Homo sapiens: one gene and its partner. The protein of the gene in region 2 interacts with the protein of the main gene of each other region in a pairwise test. Each region holds a gene or a part of one and is shown on either strand. Other genes may lie near its edges.

What was found.
Region 1: the proteins of STMN4 (region 2) and PHIP interact in a two-hybrid assay, tested with the Homo sapiens proteins (one large-scale study listed by BioGRID and IntAct).

What each region holds. Positions count from the first base shown.
Region 1 is NC_000006.12:79,011,958-79,015,784, forward strand, and holds part of PHIP (PH-interacting protein), read right to left. Parts: intron 3,827-3,827; coding exon 3,673-3,826; intron 3,260-3,672; coding exon 3,125-3,259; intron 1-3,124.
Region 2 is NC_000008.11:27,234,717-27,238,342, forward strand, and holds the end of STMN4 (stathmin-4), read right to left. Parts: intron 2,190-3,626; coding exon 2,130-2,189; 3' UTR 592-2,129; downstream 1-591. UniProt on the Homo sapiens protein: Exhibits microtubule-destabilizing activity.

The DNA of each region.
Region 1 (3,827 bases), on a different chromosome or scaffold from region 2:
TATAATCTTATATTTAAAAATTATTAAAATGTAATTACTATGTATCAAACAGGCATTTGAAAGTTCACCTTTTCACTTGAAAGGCTTTTTAACATAACAGGATTTTTGGCTATTTCTAAAATTTCAAAAAAAGAATTTACATTTCCATAATTACACAAAAAATGCAGTAAAATGCTGATGAATACAAAATACTAAATTATATGTTACATGATTTCCATTATCTTTTGCAAAGGTATAAATTTCCAATGGAAAATTCAATTATTATTCAAAAAGCAGGAGAAATATTAAAGTATTCTTAAAATATACTTGATAAAAACCAGTATTTAAGAAATTTGTACTAAAACTGTTATTCTAAAGGTATAGTCTACATTCCTTATTTTCTAGCTGTAGGTGGAATGGTGAGTTTACTTATCTGTTTTATAAACTTCAGTTTTAACAGTCACATGAAATATTATTTAATCTTAAAAATACTTCACATAACTTTCACCATTTCTAGTCAAAAAAGGAGTATTCCACCAGAATTCTTCATCCTCTAATAGACCAAAGCACTATATATGACTAGACCCTTCACATGGTGCTCAAAAAATATTTACTAAACTGAACTTGTGATTACTACTACAACTTAACATTAGGGATTAAATTTGTATGCAATCAAGTATCGTGGTATTTTAGTAACTGAAAAACTTATTGATTAGCTACAGAGAGCCAAATAGCTATAATTATAGCCAAAACTCAACATTCATGATAGCAAGCAGTGAGAACGCAGGCCCTCCCTCGAATTGTTTCTCTTTATTTTCTTAATAGCAATGCTGGATGCTTTATCTTCCATTTGCCCATAAATAAAACAAGCAATGAAAAGAACAAAAGAGTGAAGAGCAAAAAGAATTAGGGCAATTAGATAACTCATAAAAGACAGACAGGAAAAAAAATCAAGTTAAAGAGTAAGATGTCAAAAGATCCACTCAGATTTATTACCATTATGAAAACATTTCTTCATAGACATATCACTAACTGAGTATTGTTAAAAGTTAGCTATGCAGTAACATTGACAAAAGCTCAAAAAGCCAACCATGACAAGATTTGAGTACAACCAGAGTCATGGGTTTATGCTCCAAGTGCCCGCATAATAGCTGTGTGAACTCAGTAAATTGGGGCAAAGCACTTTATCTCTGTAATGTACAGTTTCTCCATTCCTAAGACCAAGAATAATAAAATCTATCTTGATCATCTTACAAGGTTTTCATGAGACCCAAAGGAGGTAAAATATGTGGGAGCATTTTGGAAACCATTAAACATCATACAAAAAATTAAAGGTAGTATCTTTATTTTAATGAGATGAAGGGTGGCTCACTTTCTGTTTTTTAGCTTTTTTGGTTTATGTTTTGCTCACTGTCTGCAATTCTATGAATACTATCCAATTCAACTTATTACATGTATTTGTTTCTTCTGCTCTTTAGAGTTTTCCTATCTCTTATCCATAAAAAGAACCAGAAAAATATCCTCATCTAACACTCTTATTTAACAATAAACAATTTTTAAGGCAGTAATGTAACCAATCCCTCAGCTAATTTTTAAAAATATACAATATATTATGGCTGACTTCTACTCCTGGTTACATTACTAATTTTTAATGGTCTAAGAGCAAATCACTTAACTCTCAAGGTGCTGCAGTTTTTGTTATCTACTGAAAAGGTAGAATATTAGTGTGACCAACTTACCTGATAAGGGAAAATTCACCTTTATATAACTGAAAAGTTAAAGCGGTATTCAATTATGGGAGAAAAGTTTCCCTCCAAACACTCTACCAATATAATAATGTCCTTTGGAAATACAAAACTACTAAATGAAGCCACTAGTATATATATAGCTCACATATTATTTTTTTTAAGCTATAAAGACAGATTGAGAAATGACTAATTTCCTTATTCAACAGATATTCCAAAAAGGAGCAAATCAGAAACACAAGGATAGAAAAGCAGAAAATATTTTTTACTAGCATATTTACAGGTGGCTTTTTAAAAAAATCTCAATACAATCACAAAGGAAATCCATCCATCACTAACAAGTGCACACCAAATAATTAACACTGTTTTCTAGAAATAGAGGGTTTTACAAACCTTATTTCTTACCTAATGTATTCTAAGGCACAGCCTTAAAGATAGCTAAAGCTATTTCCCTCACTAAAAAATCTGCTATTATATCTGCTTACTCACGACATAGAAATAACTTTACTCTGATTATCAATCAAGCATAGCATCACATTCGTGTAATTTTTTCACAAACCATGTTTCACAACTGTTTTGTGAAATAATTTATTTGGCAAAATAATTCTGACCACATGTACTAATTGTATTGTTTTATGGTTCATTACTAAAGATTTCTATAATTGGTTTTTTAAAAAAATTTAAACATGCTGAAATAGTGGAAACTGTTTTTTCTTTTGTTCTTTGTTGAAAGGTATCTCTAATATACAGAAAGTAGACATTTAAAAAATATGACTACACAAACTGCAGTAGTTGAGGAGACCTTAATACTTCATACAGTAAATAGAAACACTGCTCGGTAAGTTGTATGTGATATATTAAAACATTGTAATTCAAATACTTGGCCAATTATGTTAACATCTAAGAAACAAAATGTGAAGAGAAGAGTATAAACTCAAATATTTAATATACTACCAATTGATTAAAAGCAAGAAATGCTTGATTCTTTGGCCTTAATTTTAAAATCAGTGTACTTGAGTAAAATTCTATTGTGCTAGAAGACTATTAAACAAGTACAATAATACGAGTATTTATTTATAATTTCTTCACATGGTTTTCCAAGTATTTTTTCTTCTCTATATTGTATCTTCATACTTGTGAATTTCCAAAGTTTCACTGCTAAAACTGATAAAACTGTATCAGTTATCACAATGTACAGGCACTGTAATATGCACAATTAATTTTCTTTTAAATTCAGCATGTCAATAAAAGTGTGGAATAAATCATTCTTTATTGATGGGAATTTAAAGTCAAAATAATGAACCAATTTTTAAATGGATTTCCTTTGTGACATGCAGAGTACCTTTGTCAAAAAGCTCCCAAATCTTTAGTAGGTATAAAATGAAGAGAATGATAATTACCATATTGAAATAAGATCGTATTTTGACTCCTCTTGCCAGATCCCACACTATCACGTTTCCATCATGACCAGCAGAAAAGAGAACTCTAGGATCGAACGGGTGTGGTTCAAGAACAAATACCTCATCTTCATGACCCTGAAATATTTTTGAAGTGTCAAAGAATCATAGATATTAAAAAAGAAAGAAAAACAAACATAATGAAATACCAATATGGCACTATTTCTAGAAATGGAGTTTTAAGAAGTATTAAATTGGCAAAAATCTTCAAATTTGTCATGTATATATAATAATGAAACTGAGCTAATATCATTGTCCAGGGCTTGGTGGATGGATCTTTTCATATTAAAAAAACAGCAAATATCTACTATATATTTCCAAGCCAAACCTGTTTAACTGCACTGTTAAAATTATTCCCAATCACTCACAAAGCCGTTACCCCAGCAAGCAAGAGTTTTTAGCTAACATAAAAGACTTTATTCCTCAATGAGAATGTTTCATTCTATAGTCAGCTTCAGTTATATCAAATAAAGATTAGAATTTTTTCTCACCATCAGGACATGAATTAGTTGACCAGTGTAAGAATTCCAAACTTTCAGAGTCATGTTATTAACTGCAGTTATAACTGTATTGTCATGTCGATCCCAAGCTACCATAGTAACCTTCATTTTTGTGATTTTATCTTCTATTCCTTGAAGGTTTTGGC
Region 2 (3,626 bases):
TGCTGCGATCAACACATATATACACAAAATATAAAATTGAAACACAATTTCCATGAAATAATGCCTCCATTATCACCTGTCACCCATTTTGATGTTTTGTTTTTCTATTCTAATCCACTTAAAAAAGAAAAGAAAGGTTGGGTGGGATCCACTACGTTGATCTCAAGATCCAGTGAGTCACCACTCACAGCTTGAGAAACCCTATTCTGGGACTCAGATGCTAGTTTGGAGGTGTCAAGAAGCAGCACACTCCAGTGGCTAAGAATATGGACTCTGGGAGCAAACCGCCCAATTCAAGTCCCTGTTCTCCCATTTACTCCCTGTGTGACCTTGCCAAGTTACTTACCCTTTCTAGACCTCAATTCTTTTGTCTACAAAATGGGATGATAAGAGTACCTACCTCCTACAGGTGGTGTGAAGATAAGTGAGATAATATAGATGTAAAAGTACAGAAAAGTGTAGGACATCTAGTAAGTGCTGCCTAAGTTAGCTGCTGCCATCATCATCATCATCATCATCATCATCATCATCATCATCTTTGATCCTCCTGTTATCTTATTTTAAAATAAAGCCAAATTACAGTACCACTAGTGAGAAGAAAGAAAAAAAGGCTATACCAAAGGGTTTATTTGCAAAGCTGTAAAAAACTACACAGTGTGCAGAGCAGAGTGGGAAGAGGTCCTGGGACCCGGTTAACACAGGCAGCCCCTGCACTCATGTTTGCAGGGGAAGGGAGGAGGAGAGCTTCTTTTCCAGCCATGGTTCAGTGTCCTGGAGACCAAGACTGCTGGGTCTGGATGCCTCCTTTGCCTTCTACTAGCAAACACTTTATTTCCTTGCTCGTATTTTCTAATCTACCTAGAATCTCAAACCCCCAAAGCATGGAGGACTTCTGCTATGGTGTGAATGTTGCTGTCTCCCCCAATATACAGGTTGAATCCTAATCCCGACACTACAGAATTAAGAGATAGGGCCTTAAGAGGTGAGATCATGAGGACTCCACCTTCATGAATGGGATTAGTGCCTTAAAGAAAAGGCTCAAGGAAGCCCTTTTGCCCTTCCCTTCTGCCATGTGAGGATGCAGCAAAAAGGCATCATCTTTGAAGCAGATGGCAAGCCCTCACCAGACACTGAATCTGCTGGCACCTTGATATTGGACTTCCCAGCCTCCAAAACTGTGAGCAATCAATTTCTGTTATCAATTACTTAGTCTAAGGTATTTTGTTACAGCAGTCTGAACGGTTGTGACTAAGACAAATTCCTTCTTACAGTGCATCTTGGGGACCATATTAGGATGTCAGTTCATTGAAAGGAAGATTGAGTTTCTTTTCTCATCAATTTAGTGCATGCTATCCAATAAAGATTAGCCCACAGAGGGGATTTTAAAAAACAGAAGAGAAAACCTTTCAATTATGCCAAAGGCTGGCCTGATTCAACCCACCTCACCCAGGCTCCAGATGCTTGAATGGCAGAATTAAGGAAGCAAAGGGGCATCTGCCATCAGATGGATGAAAGCCAGGTTTCGAGAACTTTTTAACAATTACCCAAAGGACACATTTGGGAAATAAAGAACTGGACACTTGGAGTCAATGTTTCATTGGTCATGATGATCAAAAAATGATGGTTCACACACACACACAGACCTCATCCCACCTGCTGCAGGGTGGAAGCAACACCACTGGTACTCACAACCCCTCTGGCTGGGTTCTCTGGTGCGCCCTGCAGCCGCTGCCCCACCCAGGACTCTGTCCTTCACCCTGAAGTTCTACCGCCCTGGTTTTCATCTCTCCTCAACATGGTGCCTGGAGGCTCAATGTCCAGGTAGAGATGTGAAAATCAGATCTGCGCCGGGCAGGGTTGCAATGTCCTTGAGTTCTTCTCCATCTCCCTTTCCCAAACTCTCTCCTCTCCCCTCTCCCACCCCGTCATTGTTCCCCGGAAACAAATAGGATGGCTTCACTGGTCAATTCTTAACATGTACAAACACCAAAAGCAGAGGAAACGCCCCTTGGCCACCCCCCTCCCCCCAAACCCCAGTGCTGGGAGCGCAGCCGGCGGGCGAGGCTGCCTGGAACGTGGAGCTGCTGGAGCTGTCCGGCTGACCTGGAAAGTTCTTTGGCCTCTAGGCTTTACCTGGAGGCCTCTTCCTTCAGCTCCTTGTTTTTCCGCACCTCCTCGGCGTGCTTGTCCTGGAAAGGAAGGGAGGGAAAAGGGCAGGTCACACAAGGCTGCCCGGGGACAAAAAGGGAGGCCAAGGGGCAAGAGAACCAAAAGCAAAGAGTGGCCACCACAGGCAGCGAAGAGCTCTGTCTGCAAAGGCATCCCGAGAGGGGCAGAAGGTGGCAGGTGAGGCTGGCAGGAGGCAGGGGGCAAGCCTACTGGTGCTGCCCCAGGGAGCTCAGGGTCCTGTGGGTGTCAAACTGCAGCAGGGGCCCACCTTACAGTGACCATGGGCCACGCAGCCTCCCCCTCCCTCACCTGGCCATTCTGTGGTTTGGATTAGATCATATGGCTTGACTTAATATAAGGAGCTGCTGGGGGTAATTTGTGCCAGAGGAGCAGGCAGAACAGACAGGCCTCACTACAAGCATCCCCTACAAATCACATGCACCTGCCTGCTGCTTCTAGTTCTCATCCATCTCCTTTGTGAGAATTGCCTTAACCCTCTTGGTGAAAGATGAGGATTCTTTGATTTTCCTTTGTTATTATTTAAACAAAAATAGAGATGGGATCTTGCTATGTTGCCCAGGCTGTCCTCTAACTCCTGGCCTCAAATGACCCTCCCACCTCTGTCTCCCAACGTGCTGGGATTACAGATGTGAGCCACCGTGCCCAGGTGTGGACTCTTAAAGTGCAAATCGACAGAAGAATTTTGAAAATGTTGCCCAACTCCAAAAAGTGGACTTTCTTACACCTATTATAAGAGAACCTTCTTTTATTTCACAGGGTAGTGCAGCCAAAAGATAGCATCTGCCTTCCAAGGCCCATCTGCAGGAGGATCTTGGCTGGCTCACTTCTCCAACCAGGCCTCAGTTCTCTGATCTTTAAAGAGAAGGGCATAGACAGGTGGTCTTTCACCCCTCAAGTTGTGATGTTTAGTGTTCACCTGCTCACTGTGCAGATTCTCTATTAGACAGTTCTCTATTAGACGGTGACTTTCCTGTGGGTAGGGACCACATTATCTTTTCTACTATGGTGCCTTACACATGGCAAGCACTCAACCAATGTTGTCCCTCCCAGAGCCTGGCACTGTCACATCCAGATGACAGAATCAGCCTGAAGTAGACCCACGGAGGCCCCCAGGTTTTCAGGATAAACTATAAACTACGAATCTGTCCCTGCAGACACCCTAGAACTTTCTGTGGCCTAGGAGTGAGGAGTGGTGTGCACAGGGCAGGGGTTCCCAAACTTTGGTATGTATCAGCATGACCTAGGAAGCACCATCCCTAGACAGCCAGGATTAGTGTTCTGGGGAAGGTTCCAAGTATCTGTATTTTTTAATTTTATACCAAGTGAGTCTGGTACACAGGGTCAGTGACCCACACAAACACTGGCACAGCAGGCATTGTTGAAGGTGTCCCTGGCCTGGTGCACAGGTGGACAGGGCAGAAAACATACACCCAACT